Regions from separate parts of the Homo sapiens genome. Here regions 1 and 3 are each reported to be linked to region 2. The links are microRNA targets in miRTarBase. Many come from high-throughput screens and were not tested one by one. Region 2 holds a microRNA gene; each other region holds the end of a gene's coding sequence. Distances are from middle to middle.
Evidence for each region. The annotated mature microRNA hsa-miR-7704 reads CGGGGUCGGCGGCGACGUG and lies in region 2 at 2,208-2,226, opposite strand. An mRNA with a match to its seed (bases 2 to 7 or 8) in the 3' UTR can be bound and repressed. Matches are read on the target gene's strand: a 7mer-m8 pairs with bases 2 to 8, a 7mer-A1 pairs with bases 2 to 7 and ends in A, and an 8mer does both.

Region 1: miRTarBase lists CENPO as a target of hsa-miR-7704. Seed matches in the 3' UTR shown: 7mer-A1 at 855-861.
Region 3: miRTarBase lists UBE2S as a target of hsa-miR-7704. Seed matches in the 3' UTR shown: 7mer-A1 at 3,377-3,383.

The regions. Positions count from the first base shown.
Region 1 is chr2:24,817,596-24,821,677 of GRCh38, reverse strand. CENPO (centromere protein O) reads right to left here. Exons shown (of 8, transcript NM_001322101.2): 7 at 3,837-4,008; 8 at 1-2,324. The coding sequence ends at 3,872. It overlaps ADCY3 (adenylate cyclase 3), which reads left to right. Exons shown (of 22, transcript NM_004036.5): 20 at 38-161; 21 at 830-954; 22 at 1,564-2,509. The coding sequence ends at 1,746. Among named protein-coding and RNA genes, the nearest start is that of CENPO, 26 kb to the right of the region's middle.
Region 2 is chr2:176,186,975-176,191,068 of GRCh38, reverse strand. It overlaps MIR7704 (microRNA 7704), which reads right to left and starts at 2,226; the gene lies at 2,168-2,226. HOXD1 (homeobox D1) reads right to left here and starts at 2,401. Exons shown (of 2, transcript NM_024501.3): 1 at 1,616-2,401; 2 at 162-1,261. The coding sequence starts at 2,267. The coding sequence ends at 927. It overlaps HAGLR (HOXD antisense growth-associated long non-coding RNA), which reads left to right and starts at 2,111. Exons shown (of 3, transcript NR_033979.2): 1 at 2,111-2,255.
Region 3 is chr19:55,398,028-55,402,121 of GRCh38, forward strand. It overlaps UBE2S (ubiquitin conjugating enzyme E2 S), which reads right to left. Exons shown (of 4, transcript NM_014501.3): 4 at 1,718-3,735. The coding sequence ends at 3,409. It also overlaps a transcript of RPL28 not described here. Among named protein-coding and RNA genes, the nearest start is that of SNORD157, 2.6 kb to the right of the region's middle. RefSeq lists an enhancer at 346-445.

The DNA.
Region 1 (4,082 bases), 150 Mb from region 2:
CGGCCCCTGACACTTTCTCCACGGTCCCCTGGCACAGGAAGACAAGTCCGAGAGAGAGCGCTGGCAGCACCTGGCTGACCTGGCCGACTTCGCGCTGGCCATGAAGGATACGCTCACCAACATCAACAACCAGTCCTTCAATAACTTCATGCTGCGCATAGGTGAGCACCCCCAGCTGGCCTGCCCCGCAGCAGGCTCCCTTCCCATGCAGGGGCCTGGCCCACCACCAGGAGAGACATGAGGCTCAGGACAACTGAGGCAATTCGGGTGGGGAGGTTCACGCACTCACAGGGCAAGGAGACCTGAAAGACCTTTAGTCCAGACGACTCTAGATGACTAAACCAAAAACCCAGCTGATGTGATGATCCGACTATACTGTGCCTACTGTTACAATAGAAGCTTGGCCTGCCTGGCTGAGAAGTGAGTTTGTGATCCATTTCCAGAGGGGTTGCTGTGCCTGCTGAGGACATGGCTTCCCAGACAGGCCTGCTCTTTGAAAGGAGTTAAGATCACCTGCTGCTTCTACTGAGGGGGTATCATTCCTGAGTGAGGTCCCAGGAGACTTGAAATACCAGCTGTGTTAGAAGCTGGCCACTACCATGCCGAGTAAATCTGCATATGGGGGGGGGGTGGCGGCTGACACCTAACAAGCACACGGATAAACAGGAGATGTGATTTCCACCCTCCAATAGCATACAGCCAAGTTGAATGAGGACAATGATGTGTTACATTAGGAGCTTTGTGGTACAGGTCTGGAGAGGAGATGGCTTCTGAGGCCCATAACAAGGTGTGGCCTGTGGCTGTGCTGAACTTTATGCCTCTACCCTAGGCATGAACAAAGGCGGGGTTCTGGCTGGGGTCATCGGAGCCCGGAAACCACACTACGACATCTGGGGCAATACAGTCAATGTAGCCAGCAGGATGGAGTCCACGGGGGTCATGGGCAACATTCAGGTATGTCCAGTGGCACAGCTGGCACGTGCTCAGACTCGGCATGAGAACAAAACCGGAACAGTGCTTTCCCACGTGCCCCTGCCTCCCACCCTGGCCCTGAACAGTAAGTCCAGAGGCAGAGACGTGGGGCAAGTGGAAAAGAATCTCTGCAATAGCTAGCCTCAGCACAGGAAGAAACACTTCCACCCATCCACAAAATCTGGGCTGAAGTTCTAGATGCATATGGCCTACCTTTGGGTATGAACCTTCTAATACCTTGTGATCTGTCTCAGTGGCGTCTGGCAGAAAAGCTCCACGAAAGGGGCAAAGGGACAGAAGAGCAGGCAGTGGCAGTTTCCAGGTAACAGTGCTGCCACCCAGGTGACCATGGCCATCCTAGGAGAGAAGTCTCTGGATGAGAGGAGGCCCCCAGCCAGTCACTCCAGGGTTCTCCTTCCCACCCGCTGCTCGCCACGGGTGGAAGGGCTTGGCCCTGGGAGGTTTGGGGAGTGTCCCGTACTGCTTGGGACCCATGGATCAGTGCTCGGCTCCAACCACCCAAAGCCCCCACCCGCCCTCAGTCTAGGCTCCCCCCGTAACGCCACGTTCTTGCTCCCCCTCCCTCTCCAGGTGGTAGAAGAAACCCAAGTCATCCTCCGAGAGTACGGCTTCCGCTTTGTGAGGCGAGGCCCCATCTTTGTGAAGGGGAAGGGGGAGCTGCTGACCTTCTTCTTGAAGGGGCGGGATAAGCTAGCCACCTTCCCCAATGGCCCCTCTGTCACACTGCCCCACCAGGTGGTGGACAACTCCTGAATGGCCTCGAGCCTGCAACAGTCCAAACCGGAAGGGAGAATTTATTTTTTGAAACTGAAGGAAGTCCCGACCTTCCTGGATTGAAGTGCACACTCATGGACTTTAGGTTTAGAAACCTCCTCAGCCTTCATTTGTTCGTGGATGTGTGAGCTCTGAGGGTGGCCCTGCTATTCCTGTGTGTGCCTGTAGTGTCCCCAGCATAGGGGTCTTAGGCATAGGGCTGAACAGTCCTTCCAGAGCCCTCGTTCCAATCCCTGCCGTCCTTGCCCCTGAGGGGCCCTGACCACTGTGAGCAGGAGGGTGGCAGAGCTGGGACAAAGCTGCCTTTGCCGCTGGGCTTTCCGGGACTGTGGAGGGAGCACAGGCGGGGAAGCTCCACTTCAGACAGGGCTTGGTGGGGCAGGACATGGCTCCCATTTTGAAGGGAGGTCTCCATGTGGTCCGAGTGAGGTGAGACGGCCCTCGTCCTGGTGTTCCTGATCATCTTGAAAGGTTCTTCTGGAACTCCTGTCCCCTTAGTCATGAGAACAGAAAGTGCAATATTTCCTTTCACCTGGCAGGGGAGGGGGGATTTATTTCTGAAAGAAAAATATATAAACAGATCTTCTACATTTATATTTTTAATCTTCTGTTAAATACACTTTCCGATATTGCCTTGCCTTTTGAGCTCTTGCTACAGTCGCCTTTGCTACTGCTTTAAGAGAATTTACAGGTATTGATAAAGAACAAGACTGTTTTATTAAAAGCTTTATTCAACTTGAAAGTGATTGTGGAAATTCTGTTAATATCACTTATCTGAGGAGTGCTGGTACTTTGCTGACTCATGCCACTGGTCCCCACCACAGGCCTGGAAGGCAAGAGCTTGAAGGTCTCATCATAGCTCACTGTACCCCGGAACGCCTGCTGCCTGGCCCTGTCTCTTTTATTCTTAAACTTTCTTCTAAAGGGTACTCCAAGCTGGCTTTAATCCCCTGCACTGTTCCTGGAGCTCTCCCACACGGAGGTTACTTCGTGGCCATTGCAGGGTTAAGTCTGAACGTGGCCTTGGGCCAGTCATGACTCCTATCTGTGCCTGGGCAAGGGAGGGCTACAGGAGAACCTGGTCAGCCAGACACAGGTTTTCATATCTGTGAGTGACCCACACGCCAAGGAACCAGAGGTGCCAGCAGGTCAGAGGCCCGTGGTTACGGCAAATCAGGACACTAACCGGAGAGCCTGCAGGAGAGGGAAGACCCGGGGGGCGCCTGAGTCCCCCTGAGTTAATGGGCAGATTTCTAACTAACTAACTGTGCTTTTTCAGAGGGGACTTCCTAGTACATTCACAGCTCTACTAAACTTTTAGGAAACAAAATATGAGACACACTGAACTCTGATTATTTTATCCTACTGCTTTCTCACACCATATTTATAAAGCAGTGGCCTAGAATACACTGCGCCTAACCAAACAAACACTGAAGAACTTCCTTTTCAAAAGTTTCAAACAGGAAAATGAGGAAAAATTACTTAAAGCTTTCATAAAAGCTAAAAATACTTTCCTTTTAAAAAAAAAAAAATATTGGGTCTTCCTTATTATCTTCATTAGTGAATGTGGGTTATTTTTCCATTTATTTAGATCAGTGTTTCTCAACAGAATCAAGCTATTGCAGTTTGAGTGGAGTGCTACATTTCTGTGAGAGCCCTTTCTGAAAATTTTAGGATTTTTGGCATCTCTATTCCTGGCATTAAATTAGTAGCAGTTACTGTGACAACTTAATTGCCTGGTCTTTCCCAGAGTTAATGCCCTCAATAATTTGATATTTTTCCATAAGTACTTCTTGAGTGATACACCTTTTTCAAAAAATGGCTTTTATTGCCCCACAAATGATTTTCAACTAAAATGTATGATCAACTAATACCTTTAAAAAACATCTTGAGCATTTTAAGAAGGGACCAGGTGATCATGGGAATTGTTCAAAAATGCCAGTGTCTATACTCAAACCTGCTCTTCCATCCAGATGAACAGGTAGGTGTCTGTTTTCATCAGAAGGGTGATGTACCCTTCATCAGACAGTACTACCCACCTGGTACTGTCTTCAGTACTGGTTACTTACCTCTGATGTGCTCCCAGTGCAGTGAAAACAATCTATTAGGAGACCAGACTCATATCCAACTTTTCTCCTTTTCTTGTAAATGAGGCAAACACTTGATGCAAGGGCTTCGTACAGAACAGAGTTTCATGAGATGCTCGTTGCTCCTCCCATGAAGTGGATAATACTTCCACTCCTAAAAAGAAAGATTCCATCAATCTCATTCAGTGCAGCTGGGGGAATCGGAGCCTGGATCACTGATATTCAATC
Region 2 (4,094 bases):
CCAGCCTGGGCAACAGAGCAAGACTCCGTGTCAAAAAAAAAAAAAAGTTATCAACATAAACAAATTCTCATAGCAGAATCAAGAAAATTCAAATACAGGAAACTGAATCAACTTTAAAGAAAGAGAATCATTATTAAAGAGTGTAAGAAAAGCAGAGAGCAGCAGATTCTATAATTTTTATTACAAAAAAAACCCTTTACATGCTATGACATTAAATGTCACTTATAAGGTCATTGCAAGCAAATCTTTTTAAAAAATATACATACTGTATATATTTACATTCAAGTTTGAATAATATTTGTCAAGATATAGTTCAGATTCTACTCTTTACCCATTCTGTGGATTTGTTCATCTAGTAACTAAACAGCGATTGTATCATCACTCAGGCACATAGAGAGGTAGAAACCGCTTTTTTAAAGAAAAAAAAACTGGAGTGCAAATGTGAAGATCACTGAAGCAGCTTAGCTACATCAAGGAGACCCTAACTAGCTTTGGTCATCTCAAAAAGCTGAATATATGTAGCCTTGTCCTTTAAATTAAAACCAGAAAAACTTTGGGCAGGTGCTCTTCTGAGCACATCAGAGTGCTGACAGAACTCAGCAACTAATGGTCTGCCACTCTGCAACGCGAATTGCACATGACTAAGTGAGGCAAAGATAGCAGCGGAGCTGGGCTGGCAGCTGGGCACCTTTTCCCTGATAAGACACAAATCATAACCAAACAAGTGGCTTACAAGACAGTCAATTAATATCTGGACATATAGTCTGGAACTCGGAAGCCAACTAAAGTACTTCATTTCCCAAGTGAAATCCCTATTCATTTTTGTTCTCCCACCTCCATCCCAAACTGAGCTCCTAAGTCTAGATAGGGATGGGGGTCGCCTGGGACTTCTGCAGGCCACAGTTTTTCGGCCCCAAGTACCGGCCTCACGAAGGCTCTTGGGACTGAGAAGGGCTGCCGGGGTTCTTGATAAACTTAGTGGGGGTTGTTCCAGAGAGGGGAAGTTGGAGGGGAGCCACAGGAATGGCCGTGGCCAGAAGCCCTTCTCGTTCCCTTTTCTTCTGTTTCATCCTGCGGTTCTGGAACCAGATTTTGACTTGCGTGTCATTCAGGTGCAAGCAGTTGGCTATCTCGATGCGCCGGGCTCGAGTTAAGTACTTATTGAAATGAAACTCTTTTTCCAGTTCTGTCAGTTGCTTGGTGCTGAAATTCGTGCGGATCGCGCTGGAGGGGCTAGCGGCCCCATACTCGGCGAGTTTGCCTGCAACGTAAAGACAGGGCGTCAGCCAGGCCTGAGGCCGGGGACAGAATGTGGGTGAGCAGTGGAGCTAGTTAGAATCAAAGTCCCAGCGCAGCCCTCCTGGGTCCCTAGGAACAGAATTTGTACCAGGAGAAGTTCCACGGAGAGCTCCTTCCTGAAATTTTCTCAATGCCTGGCACATTTTCCGAATCTGTACTCGAGGCAGACTCCATGGAATTCGCCCGGGAACGCGTCTCCTCCACAAAACCCAAACCGCTGTCTGGAAAGGCAGCGACACCACGCTCCCAGCGCATTTCCGCGGGGGAGGCTCCGTCCCCAACCCCAGGTGGCCCCATCCAAGGCCCGCGGACTTACCTTTCTTAGAGGCATTCCTCTTCACTTTCATCCACTCGAACGTGCTGAAGGCGGCAGGGAGGCCGGAGGCGGGAGAGACGGACTTGGGGTAGGTGCCTGGGGCCGGGGATGCGGTCTGGAAAGCACCAGGGTGGCCGTCGGCTGACGCTTTGAGACAAGCCGGAAAAGGGCCGGGTTCGCCGAAGGCCGCGTAATCCACCTGGCCGCTGAGGAGGAAAGAGCCGCCGCCCGAGAAGACGGCCGAGGTGGCGTAGTGGACGTGAGACCCGCCGTCGTCGGCCGCCCGCCCCAGCACGCCCGGGAAGTCGTACGCCGGCCCGGACCCCAGGAAGCCGTAGTCCGCGCCCCCAGCTGCCGCGGCAGGTGCGGCACCAGGTTCGTAGGCCCCCTCCAGGGTGCACTGCGCGTACTGGGGCGCGGCCGGAGGCGGTACGGACGGCCGCGCGGGGGCGGCCGGGGGCGAAGGCGAGGGTCGGGCGGCGGCCAGGGGCAGACAGCTGACGAAGGCGCCGTCGCCGTTGCCCAGAGGGAAGGCGGGCTGCAGAGCCACGGGCCGGGCGTCGGAGCGGCAGAACTTGGGTGCCAAGCTGAGCACGTCGCCGCCGACCCCGCCGCTGCTGCTGCATGACACGTACTCCAGGTAGGAGCTCATGGTTCGGGCCCCACCTTTCTGAGGGCGCAGGCCGGGGCCGGAGTACGGAGCCGGGCAGAGGCTGAGCAGGACTGCCGCCGTCTGCGCCGCTCCGCCAGCCCTCTCTACCCGAGCTGCCCTCTCCAACCCATGGCGAGTGAGCCGGAGGTAAATAGTGGCCTAATATACCGGCGGGGGCGGCCACGTGGCGCTGGCCGGCCAATGGGCGGCCTCTCCGCTCGGCCCGGTCGGCGCGCCGCTCCTCGCGCCTGCCCCGCAGCCAAGTTAGCCAAAGCAGCCCAGGGCCGCCGCCCAGCGCCCCCGAGCCCCGAGGAGAGCCGTCGCGACCGGGGGCTGCCTGGGCAAGGGCGGGGCGAGAGGGCAGAACGCCTGCTCTCGGACAGGTATTGGGCGAGGTGGGGGGAGAAAGGCAGGACTGGACGCTTGGGTGAGGGCCCGTGGATGCAGCGGGGCGAGCCGCTTCTGCTCTGGATCGTGGGGGGGGCTAGTCCCTCGAGGGCGGAGTGTGGGCGTCGCGGCATGGAAAAGGTTAAATGGGAGCGTGACGCGCGGCCGGTGGAGACTGCTCTTCGCCCACCTCCAGGACAGATAAAGTTATTCCTCTTCCCCTCTTCTGAGTCCTCTGCGCTTTCGGTTTGCTTGGCGCTGATGTTATCCCTCTTCTAAACCTAGAGCAGATGTTTGGTTTTTTCCTTTCTTCCCCCTTTCCTAGGACTCATGGAACTACATCTTATGCTGTGAGTGCTGTGTGCCTAGGGCGGGACAAAATTTTCACTTTTTGACTAGGCTTCCTTTTAACGTGACTTTGCAGCTTTCTTCTATCCCTCGCAATTTGTGGCGGCGTGATGAGGGCCAGTGTTGTAGTGCCAGATTTTGATAAAGTTTCTGCCTTGTGGGGTGGTTTAGCAGATTTTCCCCTCCGGCTGGGTTGTTGGAATAAAGAATCCAGAGTGGTGGTGGAACACTCCTTATGCTCCTTTCTGGGAGACTGGCACAGGCACCGGTGCGGCGCTTGCTTTCACTGAGGAGCTTGTCTGGAGGGCGCAAGGGCTTACCGGGGACGGGTGAGATCTCAGAGGTTTAGATGGACTTGTACCTCGAAGCAATTAGAGCTTCTGCTCCATCAGATAAGTGCTGCATCGTCTCTTGTGAGTGAAATCTGAGGGCTCACAATGTTAATGGGCTCACGTCTTTCCCTTGATAATATGGTTTTGTTTACTGAGTGTAGAGAGACGGGAAATAAAAGTGCAATTGCCACAGGAAATGAAGAGTAGAAAGGTTACAAAGACCAGCTTTACATTGACAAACTTTCCAACTTCCTTTAGTATTTCTTTTAATGTTCCCTTTTGAGGGGACTGTAGGAAAATTACAAATTAGATAAATAGAGGTTATTTACACACAGTAGTTATGAAAGAGGGTGGTTTCCTAAAACCCTGTGTGAATAAAGACTCTAAAGAGTCTACTCAGAGCTTATATCAAGTGCCCTTGAAAAGTTAATCTATTACAGCCTCTAAGTTATGGTAACCGAGGTTTTATCATTGTTTTACTGATTGACTTGTCATAAAAGAGCGATTGAGCTGTTGTTGCCTAAATTTCCACTCTGAGGAAGTCTTTAGAATAGGCGCCATCACAGCCCAGGGAGCCAGTTCCTTCCAGGGTTGTGGACTTGTGAATAAACAAAGCCCTACCAAAATGTGGACTACTGATGGACCCGAAGTTGCTGCAGGATGGGGGAGGGATGTCCCCAGGTTGAGGGGAGCCAGTAGAGGGTGGATGCCTAGGAATCAGCACAAAGTTAAAGAGGTCTGTGGTTCCTGCACTGCTGGA
Region 3 (4,094 bases), not on the chromosome of region 2:
TCTACTAAAAATACAAAAATTAGCCCAGCTTGGTGGCACACGCCTGTAATCCCAGCTACTCGGGAGTCTGAGGCATGAAATCGCTTGAAACCTGTGAGGCAGAGGTTGCAATGAGCTGAGATTGTGCCATTGCACCCCAGGCTGGGTGACACAGCGAAACTCTGTCTCAAAAAAACAAAAAGAAAGAAATGGGAATGTGAATTTCTAGAGTGGGATTTGGGCTTGAGACGCAGGAAGGAGTTACCCCGGCATGGATGGTTGTGAAGAAATAGAAACAAAGGGAACCTCGATGTAAATGAAAACCAAACCGAAACCAAAAAGGTTGTTGAGTAATAAGTTGAGTTCTTTTGACTTGACTACAAAGTTTCAAAATGGGCTTTACCATCTCACTGTTCCAACTGGAGTCTATAGGAGTTCCTAGTGCTCCGCCACCTTGCCAACACTTGGTATTCTCAGATTTAATTGTTGTTTTTCTAGGAGTATAATGGCATCAATCTTGGTTTACATTTGCATTTTTCCAGTTACTAATGATGTTGAGTACCTTTACATGTGTTGAGTAACCATTTGGATTTCCTGTGTTGTGAAGTGCTTGTTCAAGTGTTTTTGCCAATTTTTCATGTTTTTTTCTTATTCGTTTGTAGGAACTCTTTATACATTTTGTTGCGTGTGTTGAGGGGAGTGGCGGGGGTGTTGAGACAGAGTCTCACTCTGTTGCCCAGACTGGAGTGCGGTGGTGCAATCTCGGCTCACTGCAGTCTCTGCCTCCTGGGTTGAAGCAATTCTCCTGCCTCAGCCTCCTGAATAGCTGAGGCTATGGGCATGCACCACAATGCCTGGCTGATTTTTATATTTTTAGTTGAGATGAGGTTTCGCCACGTTGGGCAGGCTGCTCTTGAACTCCCAACGTGAAGTGGTCCACCAGCCTTGGCCTCCCAAAATGCTGGGATTACAGGTGAACCACCGTGCCCGGTTTGTTTTGAGGAAGGGTCTCCCTCTCTCACCCAGGCTGGAGTGCAGTGGTACGATCATAGCTCACTGCAGCGTCAACCTGCCCATCTCAAGTGACCCTCACACTTCCGCCTCCGAAGAGCTGAGATTACAGGCGCACACTACCATGCCTGGCTAATTTTTTTCTTTTCTTTTCTTTTCTTTTCTTTGAGACAGAGTCTCGCTCTGTCACCCAGGCTGGAGTGCAGTGGCAGGATCTCAGCTCACTGAAACCTCTGTGTCCCAGGTTCAAGAGATTCTCCTGCCTCAGCCTTCCAAGTAGCTGGGATTACAGACATGCACCACCACGTCCAGCTAATTTTTGTATTTTTAGTAGAGACAGGGTTTCACCATGTTGGCCAGGCTGGTCTTGAACTCCTGACCTCAGGTGACCTGCCCGCCTTGGCCTCCCAAAGTGCTAGGATTACAGGCGTGAGCCACCCCACCCAACCTTGTTTAGTGTTTTAACGGAGGTTTCATTACATGGGCATATTAGACAAATCATTGACCATTGGTCATTGACCTCAACCTTCAGCCCCTCTCTTCCCAGAGGTTGGTAGGTATGGGTGGGGCTGAAATTCCCAACTGTCTAATTCGGTCTTGGTATTTCTAGTGACCAACCCCCTTCCTGAAGCTACGCAGGGGCCCATCACAGATGGCTTCATTAGGACAAAGACTGCTCCTATTAATACCCAGGAGATTCCAAGGGATTGAGGAACTCTGTCAGGGCTAAGGGCAAATATTATTTTTATTATGCACTTCGCTAAATTATTTCAGTGGGTTCCGAGGCCCAGGATGCAGGCACCTTCCTTCAGCAAGGACTGTTTGCTTCCCTCATGCAGAAATGGTTGACGATAAACGCAGAGCTTAAGATTTCTTGGATGGCCAGTGATGTGAATTTGATCTGAAAATCTGAAGGGTTTCTTCCCTTGTCTTTCCTTCGCTCCCTGCACTGCTAGAGGTAGAGAGGAGTGCAGACTTTTGGTTCCTTTTCTCCCTTAGCTTGGGAGATTGTCACTGGAGGCAAGGGCTCAAGGAAGGGTCAGACCCCTTTCAGAGGCTGAGCCGTTTCAACCTCAGCTGTTTTATTAGAATAGGCAAATTCTTTCAGGACAAAAGCAGCCTTTGAGTTTTCCACTCTCCTATGGGTCAGAACTTGTAGATTTTTATTGTAAATGTATTTTACTTTTTGTAGAGATGGGATCTCACTGTGTTGCCCACGTTCGTCTTTAACTCCTGGCCTCAAGTGATCCTTTCACCTCCTAAAGTTGGGATTACAGGCGTGAGCCATTGCGCCTGGCCTATTTTTAATTTTTTTAAAATTAATGAGACATTGGTCTAAATAACCTAAACGCATTAATAGAATGGGAAGTTTCCCCACCCCCTGGTGTGCACACCCAGGTTAATCCCTTCCCCTTGAGGGCAGAAACTAAGACTAAGCTGGGATCTTACCCCTGTGATTTAGTCATTATCACTTAAGTATCTGGATGGGCCTGACCTAATCCGGTGAGCACCTCAAAGGGAATGGGCCCTTAAATCAGACCTGCCAGGGCCCAAGGAGGGGCAGCTTCTTGGAGCTAAGACCCTAGTTCTACGAGGACTGAAATCAGCCAACAACCATGAGCATGGAAGAGGACCCAGACTAAGGAACACCAACAACCAATACCTCAATTTTAGCCTGCAAAGCACTGAGCAGAGACTAGCTCAGCCGTGTCCAGACTTCCAACACAAAGTCTGAAGTGGGTGTTGTTTTAAGCCGCTGGCTTTGTGATCTGTTGTGCAGAAATACATGTGGGAACAGGCTTTGCTGCCCACAAGGGAAAAACCAATCTTTAGCACAAAGCAGGATCAGATGATTCAAGGGGACCGAACCTTGGCCCAGTCCAGAACCAGACAGACGAGGCGAGCCTCATGCCAGACTGCTGGCACCTGGCCGTCCTGAGCAGGAACACCACTGCCACACCAACGTGGCCATTATTCTAGAGGGAGAAGTATAGGGCAGTGCCGCTCAGGCCACCAGGAGCAGCTCCAGGTCCTCGCCCCATTTTAGATTGGAAATCTGACTCCAAAGAGGGGTTGTGACCGCTCTACCTCCACAGAACAAAGAGGTGGACCCAAACCTCAAACAGCAAGGCTGGTGAGCTAGATGGACCCACTGCTGCAGTCCATGAGGCTTTACAAGGACCCAGGGCCTGTGCAGGGGAGCCAAACTCCCAGAGCCACATGGCACCATGCAGCGGTCCTGGGGCATCTGTGAGACACAGAAGCTGCTTTTCCAACTTTATTTAGAAAAACAAATCCAGGTCCCAGTGCCCCCTGTACCCTCCCCGACCCCAGCCATAATTTAAATAACTTAGAGACAGAGTTGGAGGGAGGGGACAGGAGAGGTTGGGGTCACGGTGGAAGGAGGAAGAGAGCCCACTACAGCCGCCGCAGCGCCCGCTTCTTGTCCGTCTTTTTCTTGGCCGCCAGCTTCTTATCGCGCTCGCCAGCATGCTTCTTGGCCATGGGACCCTCAGCCCCTCCCGGGCCCCCTGGGGCCCCAGGGTCGGTGGAGGAAGCTTCAGTGCCACTGGCCAGGGCCCGACCGGCTTCGGCCCTGCCGCTGGGCCCGCCGGCGCCCCCGTGGATCTCTGTGAGCAGACGGGCCCGAGCCGCATACTCCTCGTAGTTCTCCAAGAGCAGGCGGCCCGCCTCCTCGTTGAGTGCAGACTCGGGGTTAGGGTGGATCAGCAGGCACTTGATGGTCTGTGGGAAGAGGCTCAGGGTCACAGTGGGTCGGGCAACCTACAGGGACCCCCAGGCCTCCACAAGAGGGTGGCCTCCGCACTGGCTGTTCCTTCTGCTCCCAACTCAGCTGCAGATCCAGGCCCCACCTATGCTGCATCCTCCCTCATCTTTGCTCCTGTCTCCCTCAGAGGCCACCTTCATGTGACCTGCCTCACAGCAGATGTTCCCAAAAGGACACGATGCCATAGGCCCAATGGTTTAAAATGTCCCTGGTCCTCCGTGGAACTTGCTGGGTAACGGGGGAAACGCCAAGGCCCCCTCTCAGGAGTCCATTACTTGCCTGAGCCCCAGACTTGAGTCCTATTATGGTTTTGAAT